Linked DNA regions of Homo sapiens. The protein of the gene in region 2 purifies or fractionates together with the protein of the main gene of each other region. This does not show direct contact. Each region holds a gene or a part of one and is shown on either strand. Other genes may lie near its edges.

Region 1 (3,818 bases), on a different chromosome or scaffold from region 2:
ACCATCCTTTTTTTTAATGTTAAAATACCCTTACATATTTCAAAACAGGAAGTTTTTTAAAAAGTCTTACTTTTCTGAATCAATGATGGTAATAAATGGCAGTTGTATTTTTAATCTCTCCACACATAGCAAAATAAATGAGTAGCTATGTTAGTTCCAAAGTTACTTTAGAAATTTCTTTAGACTATTAAATGCCAAAAACTAGGAACCATTGCATTAATTCACCACTTCCCATGATATGTATTATGAGCACCCAAAGAGGTGCTCTCTATAAGATATGCCTTCTTTATAGATGAGGAAAGTGAAGCTAAGAGATGTTCAGCAACTTGCCCAAGGTCACAAAGAGACTACGTGCACAGATGGGAATCAAACCCAGTCTCTCTGTTTTGTTTTTTTTTTCTTTTTGAGACGGAGTCTCGCTCTGTAGCCCAGGCTGGAGTGCAATGGTGCCATCTCGGCTCACTGCAACCTCTCCCTCCCGGGTTCAAGTGATCCTCAGCCTCCTGGGTAGCTGGGATTACAGGCACTCACCACCATGCCCAGCTAATTTTTGTATTTTTAGTAGAGACAGAGTTTCACCATGTTGGTCAGGCTGGTCTTGAACTCCTGACCTCAGGTGACCCACCCACCTCCACCTCCCAAAGTGCTGGGATTACAGGCATGAGCCACCGCACCCAGCCAGTCTCTCTGTTCTAAAACCCAAGATAGCACTGTCATAGATGTGAAAATATAAAGTAATTACTACAATGAATTCAAACTCTGGTCCAACTGAAATTAAGTTCCCCTGTTGCAGTAGTCTCTCCCATCTCCTTTCTCTCACAGCAGTTACCATAGTAAATCATTTCATTGCTTATTTGGATAATTTGATTAATGCTTAACATTCATCCTTCCCCCTACACACACATTAGACTAAAAAGATCACATCCATTATGGACAATACCTGTTTTTCTCACCCCTGTATACCCAATCGCCCAACACAGTCAACATAACAGTAATGACTATAGGTTCTAACAGCAGACAGAAACAGATATGATCTTGACTCCTAAACAAGCTATTTAATCTTTCTTAGTTTCAATTTCTTTATCTGTAAAATAAAGATAATATTACCTAACCCATAGGGCCAACGGGGAGGGAGGGGGCAAATGACTTAATATAAATAAGGTATACAGAATGACATCTTACAGTTAGTCAAAAGCAAGCACGATATGTACACAAAATGCTAGTTCTTTTTTTTTTTCTTTTGAGATGGAGTTTCGCTCTTGTTGCCCAGGCTGGAGTGCAATGGCGGATCTCAGCTCACCACAACCTCCACCTCCAGGGTTCAATCGATTCTCCTCCCTCGGCCTCCCCAGTAGCTGGGATTACAGGCATGCGCCACCACGCCTGGCTAATTTTGTATTTTTAGTAGAGACGGGGTTTCTCCATGTTGGTCAGGCTGGTCTCGAACTCCTGACCTCAGGTGATCTGCCCGCCTTGGCCTCCCAGAGTGCTGGGAGTACAGGCGTGAGCCACTGCACCTGGCCAAAATGCTAGTTCTCATACTTATTTATTAGTTTCATAACTGGCATTTAATAAATACTTGCTAAATGAAGGAATCTAAGTCTATTCAATCCAAAGTGCATGTTCTTAAACATTATACTTAAATAACAATATTTATTGACACTTGCAAAATGAAGAGGACATTAAAAATATTATATACATCTTCAAATTACCAAAATGAGTGTTTAAGATTCAATAAAATTTTTTTTTTTTTTTTGGAGACAGAATCTCGCTCTGTCACCCATGCTGGAATGCAGTGGACGATCTCGGCTCACTACAAGCTCCGCCTCCCAGGTTCACGACATTCTCCTGCCTCAGCCTCCGGAGTAGCTGGGACTACAGGCGCCCACCACCATGCCTGGCTAATTTTTTTGTATTTTTAGTAGAGACGGGGTTTCACCGTGTTAGCCAGGATGGTCTCGATCTCCTGACCTCGTGATCTGCCCGTCTCGGCCTCCCAAAGTGCTGGGATTATAGGCATGAGCCACCGCGCCCGGCCAGATTCAATAAAAATTTCTTTGCCTTATCAACTCAATTTCTAAAATTTTTCTAGTATTTCTGTTATATTTCCCTGACCAGTTTCTTTTACCTCACAAAGTAATTTTTCTAAACCTTCATAGCTCACGAGTCCCAACTCCACATCTTTCCTGCTCATTGATGTTTCAATTGCACCAGGTAAAAACAAGTAACTAAGAACTCCCTCAACATCCCTCAGCCCCCTCCACCTTACCTACAAATTGCTCAGCAAACTGTCCTGCTATCTTACAGGAAAAGGAAACCTTCTTTTTAGCTATAGCTGAAATAGTGCTATTTTAGAATAATTATGTTCCAAGTATTGCAAGCAATACACTTATAGTAAAAATCACCATTGTTTATTTGATAGTCAAATTTAACCTGGCATCCTGTATTTTATCTGGAAGCCCTACATCTCCAAGTAGATAACTTTCTAATCTCAAATCCCAGATTTTTATGTGCAAATGCCTCCTTGTGCAGTTTACCACTTGAATGTCCCACAAGCCCTTTAAACACAACAGACCTCAAACTGCACTTAGTACTTCCTCCAAAATCCTGTTCTAACCCCTCAGTAAATGGTATCACCATAAACCCCAAAACCTGTAAGTATCCTTGGACTCCTCTTTGACCTTCACACCCATAAACAATCTCTAAATTTGATCAATCCTACCTAACCATTTTTAAATCTATTATCTTTTCCCACTTTATTGTTGATACTCAACTATTAAACACACCACATTCTCTCACCCCTCCATGACGTGGCTATTTTCTCTGCTATATTTTCTCTGTCTGAAACTCTTAGTCAATTTTTATAATACAATTGCTACCTGCTATGTGAAACCTTCCTCTCCTTCCCATATAGATTTAGGGCTCCTTCCCCTATGCTCCCAATGCACCTCACACAATTTTAAAGCACTTACCTAAGACTGTGATTTTGTATTTTTTTTTTTTCAGATGGAATATTGCTCTGTTGCCCAGGCTGGAGTGCAGTGGAGCAATCTCTGTTCACTGCAGCCTCCGCCTCCTGGGTTCAAGTGATTCTCCTGCCTCAGCCTCCCCAGTAGCTGAGATCACAGGCATGTGCCACGAAGCCTGGCTAATTTTTTTGTATTTTTAGTAGAGTTGTGGTTTCACCGTGTTGGCCAGGCTGGTCTTGAACTCCTGACCTCAAGTGAGCCACCTACCTCGGCCTCCCAAAGTGCTGGGATTACAGGTATGAGCCACCACTCATGGCCTTGATTTTGTATTTGCACAAAAGGTGGCACAGGCCAGGCACGGTGGCTCACGCCTGTAACCCCAGCACTTTGGGAGGCCGAGGCAGGTAGAGTTCGAGACCAGCCGGCCAACATGGTGAAACCCCGTCTCTATTAAAAATACAAAAATTAGCCAGGTGTGGTGGTGGGCACCTGTAATCCCAGCTACTCGGCAGGCTGAGGCAGGAGAACTGCGTGAACCCAGGAGGTGGAGGTTGCAGTGAACCGAGATGGCGCCACTGCACTTCAGCCTGGGCTACAAAGCAAGACTCCATCCCAAAAAAAAAAAAAAAAAAAAAAGAAAGAAAAAAAAAAGGTGGCACAAAGCAGCAGAAAGCATACAAGTTTGAAGACAATTAGGTTTAAATGAGAATGCATAAGATATGCTTAGCATAGCTTCTCACAAGGCACAGTCACTCAACAAATATTACTTCTCTCATTCTCATAACTTTTCTCTCCATTACACTATCAATTACCTTGAGAGCAGAAGTCCTATCTTTTCATCTCTGTAGC
Region 2 (3,918 bases):
AAAAAATTAGCCAGGCATGGTGGTGTGTGCCTGTAGTACCAGCTACTCGGGAGACTGAGGTGGGAGGATCGCTTGAGCCTGGAGGTCAAGGCTGCAATGAGCTGAGATTGTACCACTGCACTCCAGTCGGGGCAACAGAGCAAGACCCTGTCACAACAGAAACAAAATCTTGAGGTGTCTAGTCCTGGCCTCAGCCTCAGAGTATTTGTTTCTGAACTTGTTAGTTTTGGGGGTTGGGGATGCTGGTTTGATTTCCTCCTTTTTGCCTTTTGAGTGTGTGCAATTTATGGTATAGCTGGGAAACGTAAAAGTCAAGAGTTTTGTAGGAAAATCACGTCACTTAGCCCTGTCTCCTGTGCCGGACGAGTCCTGTGTGTGCACTTGGTGACAATGGCTTTGAGTCTTCAACTCCAGATTGAGGTCAGCCTTACACATCCATAGTTCCCAAAGCTGAAAACAGGCCTGCCTCCAACGGTACCTGCTAACATCTGGGGAGCTTTTCAGCTTACAGAGCACCCTGTATGTGTTTGTCTTAGTTCAGGCCACCATCTCCAGCTTACCAGGCTCTAGAACCTTCTCCACACTTTGCCAACAGGGTTCGTTTGCAGAATTGAAACCTTAGTTAAGGTTTGTTGAGGTTGTTGTTGTTGTTGTTGTTTTTACAATTGGCTATTCCCACCCACATTCCCTTGAGACATAAATAGAAAAAAAAAAGAGGTTTCCTGAGTAGGACAAGACATTTGAGCTGCATCCACTTGATCCTTGAAAAGGAAATCTAAGAGGTTGTAACTATCACTTTTTCTAGCCTATATAAGGTAGGTCAGTAAGGTAGCAAAAGCACATCTGTTGTTTTGCTCCTTCAACTCTTTTTCCTGATTCTTCCTGGGGGAAAACCTAAAACGGTGAGTAACTGGTGGACCCATCAGACCCCAGACTCTTCTTCACTGCATGCATTCATATTAGGCTCAGGTGCTTAGACTCCTGTTTTCCCATGGCTCTGACATCTGGAAGGATTTTAATCTCTGGGAGATGGGCTTTTCATCCATCTGCTTCCCACCTTTCAGGACAGGTAGCATGTCTTCTTCCACAGAATGTCTGCAAGCAGCCCAAACTGTATCCTTTCCCACGTGGAATTTGCAACAGTGCATCTCTCGGACTGCTGTAGGAAAATGCCAGTGCATTTGTAACATGGTTTACGGCTGCCTATGCAAATGACTGATTATGTCAGTATAATTTTTATAAGAAAACAATTGAATCCTTCTTTGGGTCATGTTTTTTTTTTTCATTTTTGGCATATATTCAAAAGAAGGCTCTGAGACAAAAAGGGCTGGGGTCTTTTTGGTATCTGGTTTTAATTTGGATATTCTGTCCCGTCACTTAATACAAAACCATGCTTATCACATTTTAAAAATTCTAGACAGGCCTGGCTTGGTGGCTTATGCCTGTAATCCCAGCAGTTTGTGAGGCCAAGGCAGGCAGATCACATGAGGTCAGGAGCTCGAGACCAGGCTGGCAAACATGGCAAAACCCCATCTCTACTAAAAACACAAAAATCAGCCAGGCCTGGTAGTGCGCACCTGTAATCCCAGCTACTCGGAAGGCTGAGGCAGGAGAATCACTTGAGCCCAGGAGGTGGAGGTTGCAGTGAGCCAAGATTGTGCCACTGCACTCCAGCCTGGGTGACAGAGTGAGACTCCATCTCAAAAAAAAAAAAAAAAAAAATCTAGACACACATACAGTTTCAGTGGGCCTGGGAAGATGTGTTTCCCCTGGATGTGCACGTTCCTGTTTGTGGCTTATCGCCTCTCGTTTATTCTGTGTGAGTAGGTAGAAAATGAGCATCACGGACGTGCTCAGTGCTGATGACATTGCAGCAGCGCTCCAGGAATGCCAAGGTAGAGGGGACGTGGGGCGGGGGTGGGATTTCCTCACAGCTTTGCCCCTCCAGCGAGGCAACACAAAATCAAAATGTAGGCCAGGCGGCCAGACGCAGTGGCTCACGCCTGTAATCCTAGCACTTTGGGAGGCTGAGGTGGGTGGATCACGAGGTCAGGAGTTTGAGACCAGCCTGGCCAAGATGGTGAAACCCCATCTCTAATAAAAATACAAAAAAATTAGCCAGGCGTGGTGGTGGGCACCTGTAATCCCAGCTACTCGGGAGGCTGAGGCTGAGAATTGCTTGAACCCGGCCTTTTTTGTAGACTCTGTCTACAAAAAAAAAAAAAATGTAGACCAGGCATGGTGGCTCACATCCGTAATCCCAACACTTTTCGGAGGCCAAGGTGAGAGGACTGTTTGAGCCCAGGAGTTTGAGACCAGCCTGGGCAACATAACAAGACTCCATCTCTACAACATAACAATAAAAATAAAAACTAGCGGGGCATGGTGGCATGTGCCTGTGGTCCCAGCTACTCTGGAAACTAAGGTAGGAGGATCACTCAAGCCCAGGAGGTTGAGGCTGTGGTGAGCTATGATCGCTACACTGCACTCCAGCCTGGACGACAGAGTGAGACTCTGTCTCTAAATAAATAAATAAATAAATAAATAAATAAGTAAATAAGAGCTTGGCTGGAAAATTCATGGAATCAGAGAAGAAAACTACTATTTATTAGATAACTAAAATTATAGAGATCTGGGATCTGAGCACACGATTACACTTCTGTAAGACAAAAGAAACCTACTAAACATGAAAGCAAGAAATCACTGAAGGGCCAGGTGTGGTGCTCACACCTGTAATCCCAGCACTTTGGGAGGCCAAGGCCGGTGCATCACTTGAGGTCAGGAGTTCAAGACCAACCTGGCCAGCCTGACAAAACCCTGTCTCTATTAAAAATACAAAAATGAGCTGGGCATGGGGGTGCATGCCTGTAATCCCAGCTACTCGGGAGGCTGAGGCAGGAGAATCAGTTGAACCTGGGAGGCAGAGGTTGCAGTGAGCCGAGATCACGCCACTGCACTCCAGCCTGGCGACAGAGTGAGACTCTGTCTCAAAAAAAAAAAAAAAAGAAAGAAAGAAATCGCCAAAGGCCATTTAGCCTGTTGAAATCCAGTGATTGCATTTCCCCCTACCAATTAGACCAGGGATGTTGGGGGCTCGGCCACACAGCCTGTAAAGTGGGCCAGGGGGAGGGGGAGGCACAGAGGAGAGGAGGAGGGAAAAGGAAAATGGACAAAACCAAGTGGAGGAGGGAAGACCGGGGCGGAGGGGACATGGGATGCCATCACAGAGCCATCAAGTCTTGGCTGTCCCAAAATCTTAGACCAGTTGAGCATCCCCGTAGCTCAGGGATATTGTTGAAGTGTTTTTAATCATCTGTGTTTTCAGTACCTTGGCCCCAACATAGAATGTGATCCAATGAGTGTCAGAATAACCCATTCTCTGTTCTTCAGACCCAGACACTTTTGAACCCCAAAAATTCTTCCAGACGTCAGGCCTCTCCAAGATGTCAGCCAGTCAGGTGAAGGATGTTTTCCGGTTCATAGACAACGACCAGAGCGGGTATCTGGATGAAGAAGAGCTTAAGTAAGCTTTGTCCTGAGGCTGTCTGGTACCTGGCACTGCTGGGTGGGCCTGGGGTGCAGTGGGGGCCAGGTTGCTCAGTATTTCTTCAATGGCCAGCCTTGGTGTTGGTCATTCGGCCAAGCATCATTAAAGCAAAGGACATGAGTCAGTTGACCGCACATCTACCCATGCAAAGCCCTCAACATGGGCAGTGAAGACTACAGGTGCAAAGATTCTTTTTTTTTTTTGAGACAGGGCCTCACTGTCACCCAGGCTGGAGTGCAGTGGGGTGATCTCAGCTCCCTGCAGCCTCCGCCTTCCAAACTCAAGTGATTCTCATGCCTCAGTCTCCCAAGTGGCTGGGATTACAGGTGCTTGCCACCACATCCAGCTAATTTTCATATTTAGAGTAGAGA

Evidence for each region.
Region 1: the proteins of OCM2 (region 2) and ZMYM6 purify together in Homo sapiens (affinity purification with mass spectrometry; one large-scale study listed by BioGRID and IntAct). This does not show direct contact.

What each region holds. Positions count from the first base shown.
Region 1 is NC_000001.11:35,021,884-35,025,701, forward strand, and holds part of ZMYM6 (zinc finger MYM-type protein 6), read right to left. Parts: intron 1-3,818. UniProt on the Homo sapiens protein: Plays a role in the regulation of cell morphology and cytoskeletal organization.
Region 2 is NC_000007.14:97,988,021-97,991,938, reverse strand, and holds the start of OCM2 (oncomodulin-2), read left to right. Parts: upstream 1-1,742; 5' UTR 1,743-1,834; coding exon 1,835-1,895; intron 1,896-3,390; coding exon 3,391-3,523; intron 3,524-3,918.